2 separate regions of the Homo sapiens genome follow, and region 2 is linked to region 1. Evidence: fine-mapped QTL for protein levels in blood plasma. Region 1 holds a variant in brackets. A gene starts in the other region. All regions are shown on their forward strands.

Region 1 (2,912 bases):
CTTGTGCCAGTTTTCAAAGGGAATGCTTCCAGTTTTTGCCCATTCAGTATGATATTGGCTGTGGGTTTGTCATAGATAGCTCTTATTATTTTGAAATACGTCCCATCAATACCTAATTTATTGAGAGTTAAATGTTAGACCTAAAACCATAAAAACCCTAGAAGAAAACCTAGGCATTACCATTCAGGACATAGGCGTGGGCAAGGACTTCATGTCCAAAACACCAAAAGCAATGGCAACAAAAGCCAAAATTGACAAATGGGATCTAATTAAACTAAAGAGCTTCTGCACAGCAAAAGAAACTACCATCAGAGTGAACAGGCAACCTACAACATGGGAGAAAATTTTCGCAACCTACTCATCTGACAAAGGGCTAATATCCAGAATCTACAATGAACTCAAACAAATTTACAAGAAAAAAACAAACAACCCCATCAAAAAGTGGGCGAAGGACATGAACAGACACTTCTCAAAAGAAGACATTTATGCAGCCAAAAAACACATGAAGAAATGCTCATCATCACTGGCCATCAGAGAAATGCAAATCAAAACCACTATGAGATATCATCTCACACCAGTTAGAATGGCAATCATTAAAAAGTCAGGAAACAACAGGTGCTGGAGAGGATGTGGAGAAATAGGAACACTTTTACACTGTTGGTGGGACTGTAAACTAGTTCAACCATTGTGGAAGTCAGCGTGGCGATTCCTCAGGGATCTAGAACTAGAAATACCATTTGACCCAGCCATCCCATTACTGGGTATATACCCAAAGGACTATAAATCATGCTGCTATAAAGACACATGCACACGTATGTTTATTGCGGCACTATTCACAATAGCAAAGACTTGGAACCAACCCAAATGTCCAACAATGATAGACTGGATTAAGAAAATGTGGCACATATACACCATGGAATACTATGCAGCCATAAAAAATGATGAGTTCATGTCCTTTGTAGGGACATGGATGAAATTGGAAACCATCATTCTCAGTAAACTATCGCAAGAACAAAAAACCAAACACCGCATATTCTCACTCATAGGTGGGAATTGAACAATGAGATCACTTGGACACAGGAAGGGGAATATCACACTCTGGGGACTGTGGTGGGGTCGGGGGAGGGGGGAGGGATAGCATTGGGAGATATACCTAATGCTAGATGACAAGTTAGTGGGTGCAGCGCACCAGCATGGCACATGTATACATATGTAACTAACCTGCACAATGTGCACATGTACCCTAAAACTTAGAGTATAA[TA/T]AAAAAAAAAAATTAAAAAAAAAAACAAAAACATTTCATCAAGTCAGTTGGAGCTTCCACTCCATCAAGACAGGGAGTTTGCCCATGCTTGAGACCTGCTCTGTAATATTTCTTTATAATTTCAGCTATGACTTTGTTCATGCTGGTACAGAATTTAATGCTCACTATTTCATTACTGTTGAAACTTTGCAATTTATAGTAGCTTTTACCATTATATCATGGCCATTCATGTTTCTTATATTTCTTTTAGCCTTAAATGCCACCTTTTTTGGTATTAACATCGAGTCTTCTGCTTTCTTGGTTTGCATTTTTTCTTATCTTTTTGTTCACTCCTTGACTCTCTAATTCTCCTTACCAATTGTTTTAAGCATGACTGTGTAAACATTAAGTACATTGGTGTTATGTTTACTCAATGTGAGAGTCTACCTTTAATGGCAAAATTCATTCCATTCTCAGAGTAGAGATCAGTATATCTCATGTTTACTACTGGCTTAAATTTCTTATTATTTTTTTCTCTTATTGTTTTATTTGAACAAATTACTATTTATGTTATCTTTTGTTTTTGTTTCAGTTATAGTTTTCCATTCTGTTAATGCTTTCCCCTTTTCTTGCTCTTCTTATTAGATATCTATGACTCTACTATTATTTTAAGAAGATAAACTATGCTCTCAGTTGAGATAGACTGTCTTACTCAGCCAACACTCAGTTTTCTTTGATATCTTTCTCATTCCTCAAAACAATAACAAAGGAAGATGAAAACCTAGAAAAAATTACATTAGGTCTCTCCACTATTTGCAAGATGCCATTTCAATTTTAAGATTTTTTTTTTTTTTAAGACAGAGTCTTGTTCTATCACCCAGGCTGGAATGCAGTGGCACGATCACAGCTCACTGCATCCTTGAACTGCTAGGCTCAGGTAATTCTTCCACCTTGGCTTCCCACAGTGTTGGCATTACAGACATGAGTCACTACATCTGGCTGCCTCAAAATTTTTTTTGTTTTGTTTTTTGAAACAGAGTCTCACTCTGTCACCAGGCTGGAGTGTAGTGGCGGTGATCTCGGCTCACTGCAACCTCCACCTCCCAGGTTCAGGTGATTCTCCTGCCTCAGCCTCCCGAGTAGCTGGGACTATAGGCATGCACCACCACACCTGGCTAATTTTTGTATTTTTAGTAGAGACGGGGTTTCACCATGTTGGCCAAGATGGTCTCGATCTCTTGACCTCATGATCCACCTGCCTCGGCCTCCCAAAGTGTTGGGATTATAGGCGTGAGCCACTGCACCCGGCCGGCCTCAAGATTTTTAAATTTAGCATTAAATAACCTACTAGATTTTATTTATTAAGATAGAAAAAATAGATTGAAAAAAGATAATGAGTAAATTAATAGGTGAACGAATGAATGGATAGGTGGATAGGTAAATAGATCACCACCTTCCTTCCTCCTCTTATTTCTTAAATTCCCTTTTGATTGGTGTGAGTCTTTTTTCAAGTAATTTTTTCATGCAGAGTATTTGTGTGGTACATATTCTAAATTTTTGTGTTTTTTAAAGTAAATAATATCTCAGGTTGCTACATAATTCTCGAGTTATAAATCCTTTCCCCCTTTTTAGTGTCAACTATTACTAATAAGAAATACCATGCCAAACATA
Region 2 (2,912 bases), not on the chromosome of region 1:
CAAGTCTTCCTGCCTCAAAATCATATCACTCTGATTCGAATAAAAAATACCAAGGTTTTTCCTTCTTGAGGTTTTATACTCATGGAAGTTCTTCAACCTGAGGTCTGAAAAATAAGGCAACCCCATCCTCTCCTTAAACAGGTTAGAGCCAGTACCTTTTTATTTCTCTATGCACGGACAAAATAATTATGCAAAAAAAAAAAAGAGGCAGGTTTTGTTTTTTTTTTTGCACTACTGAAATTCACACTTAACATATAAACAATCTGCTATATGCAGACAGCACTGGTGTTTAGAGTTCAATGATCTGGATTCAAGCCTATTTAAAACCAGATAAGAGAAAGTTCCCAAACATCTATGTGTCTTGGATTCTTCATCTGTAAAATTGCGTTGTTGAGAAGATAATATGAGACTAGGCGCGCAAAACAATTTGTTAGAGCTATTATTTCTAACCCGGAATGTGTTCGCTGGCAGTAACAGTGCATTAGTTACGATTCATCGAGGGCAGCTTCTGGACTTTCTGTTTGGAAGCCCAGCTGAGGCAAAAGCAGCAGTGCGTTTAAAAATTGGAGCTCGCCACATTCTGAAATTCTTTCGGTTCGTGAAAGCAGTAACCTAGGAAACGAGACTGGCACCACCCCTTTCAGTCCTAAAGCTTGGTTTCTCCCGCTTTTCTCCATTATGTTTAGGGCATCGCTATTTTACAGTCTTTTTGTTTTTTCTTTCCACATCATTAGCACAAAAGAGAAATTCCCCTTCTACAGAAGCAAGTACAAAACCTTTCTAGTCGCTCCTTTTTGGCAGCAGCTCACCTACTATTTTTTTCTATTCCGCGGTCGCAGCCCCAGACGTCCTCAAAGACAAATATTTTCGCGAGGGCCAGTGTAGGGCAGGAACTCCCTAGGCCTTGAATCAAGGGAATCCAGTAGATAACAACAGAAAGGACTCCGACCCAGGTACCTGAGACATCTGAGACCGCCAAAATTAACACAACACCCTACGCGACAGAGAAAACTCTGGGCGGGGAGAGAGAAAGAGAGCGAGCGAGCGAGAGAGAGAGAGAGCGAGAGAGAGAGAGAGAGAGAGAGAGAGAGAGAGAGAGAGAGAGAGAAAGAGAGCGAGCGAGAGAGAGCGAGAGAGCGAGAGAGCGAGAGAGCGAGAGAGCGAGAGAGAGAGAGAGAGAGAGAGAGAGAGAGAGAGAGAGAGAGAGAGAGAGAGAGAGACGAGAGGAAGCAACGTTCTCGCGACAAGAGGGGTGTCGACGGAAACTCGGAAATGGTCCCCTAGACGACCCGGCCCCAGCTAGTGGGTGGGGCCAGGGTACATCCGCCCCTTTCCGGTTTTTTTCCCCGCCTCCCAACCGTGAGGTGTTGGGTTTGGGGGACGCTGGCAGCTGGGTTCTCCCGGTTCCCTTGGGCAGGTGCAGGGTCGGGTTCAAAGCCTCCGGAACGCGTTTTGGCCTGATTTGAGGAGGGGGGCGGGGAGGGACCTGCGGCTTGCGGCCCCGCCCCCTTCTCCGGCTCGCAGCCGACCGGTAAGCCCGCCTCCTCCCTCGGCCGGCCCTGGGGCCGTGTCCGCCGGGCAACTCCAGCCGAGGCCTGGGCTTCTGCCTGCAGGTGTCTGCGGCGAGGCCCCTAGGGTACAGCCCGATTTGGCCCCATGGTGGGTTTCGGGGCCAACCGGCGGGCTGGCCGCCTGCCCTCTCTCGTGCTGGTGGTGCTGCTGGTGGTGATCGTCGTCCTCGCCTTCAACTACTGGAGCATCTCCTCCCGCCACGTCCTGCTTCAGGAGGAGGTGGCCGAGCTGCAGGGCCAGGTCCAGCGCACCGAAGTGGCCCGCGGGCGGCTGGAAAAGCGCAATTCGGACCTCTTGCTGTTGGTGGACACGCACAAGAAACAGATCGACCAGAAGGAGGCCGACTACGGCCGCCTCAGCAGCCGGCTGCAGGCCAGAGAGGGCCTCGGGAAGAGATGCGAGGATGACAAGGTAAGGACGACCCTTTTCTCTTCAAACCCCATGGTTTCTTTTCTCCCCGGGGTCTGGGGCGGGATGTTAATCCGCTAGCTGTTGTCTTATGCCTTCCAGTATTTCAGTCCTGAAGGCTCCTTTCACCCCCAACAACCCTGTTTCTGTCAGACTTTTCCCAGTTTATCAGTGCCACGTTCTCTGGTCCCTGCCAGAAAAAAATGACTGTAAATTCTGGTTCTCAAGAGTGGACTGTGTGCAGATGCTGCCTATTCTCTAAGCTCAGCTGGTGAGTTGGCAGTAGTAATCATCTGGCCTGTGTGGCCCCCTTACCTTCAAAGACACACAAATCTGGCGACTGCCAGGTTTGGTGTGGTTATTGTCTCATTTTTATTCCGTGCACACTGATCAATATTAATTTCGTTATTTAAAGAACGAAGCCGCCTCTGACTCCTCTACTTATGGTAGTCATCATATATTTTTTAAGCTGTGTGACTTTTAAAATCTCTATAGGGTGATGTATTGAATAACTAAATAATCAGCTATGACTGCCTTTTTGTGATCAAAATGTTATGATAGATGGGCCCTCGAGCTATATGTGAGACACACTTGTGTCTTGGACATAGTTGATCCATCATTATCTACTCAATTTGAATTGTTAATGAAATCAGCCAAAAGATTAGAATCTGAAAATAAATTTTAAGCAGTGGAATGTCATGTCAGTGTCTTCATTGAAAGAAAATAGAATGAAATTTTGTATAGCTAAGTTGCTATTAGGGTTGGTGTTTTATGCAGATGGAAAACTATACAAAGTTTTAAATATAAAAAGTTTAAAATTGAACTGTAATCATACTTGCTACTAAATAATCCTTGTTTTCATTAGCTCATTGGTAACTATATTAATAGTTTATGACTTAGCAACTTCTGTAGGTATAGTAGAGTTATGAAAA

Which allele goes with the higher level. Positions count from the first base shown, and alleles are read on the strand shown. Strength reflects both the effect of a copy and how common the allele is.
With allele TA in place of T in region 1, the plasma level of the protein whose gene starts at base 1,346 in region 2 is lower (weak association).

The links. A credible set is the group of variants that fine-mapping cannot tell apart. PIP is the posterior inclusion probability: the model's chance that the variant is causal. The UK Biobank Pharma Proteomics Project read protein levels with antibody pairs (Olink). The fine-mapping took linkage between variants from a reference panel, not from the people measured, so its PIPs are less certain.
Region 2: GOLM2 starts here. The variant in region 1 is the best candidate, but not a certain one, in a credible set for the plasma level of the GOLM2 protein (UK Biobank, PIP 0.52).

Annotation. Positions count from the first base shown.
Region 1 is chr1:199,024,306-199,027,217 of GRCh38, forward strand. All of the region lies in intron 1 of LINC01221 (long intergenic non-protein coding RNA 1221), which reads left to right. Among named protein-coding and RNA genes, the nearest start is that of LINC01222, 6.8 kb to the left of the region's middle. The variant TA/T (reference allele first, on the strand shown) is at 1,262.
Region 2 is chr15:44,287,374-44,290,285 of GRCh38, forward strand. It overlaps GOLM2 (golgi membrane protein 2), which reads left to right and starts at 1,346. Exons shown (of 10, transcript NM_138423.4): 1 at 1,346-1,983. The coding sequence starts at 1,657. RefSeq lists enhancers at 405-1,311, 693-762, 1,158-1,452 and a silencer at 1,263-1,622.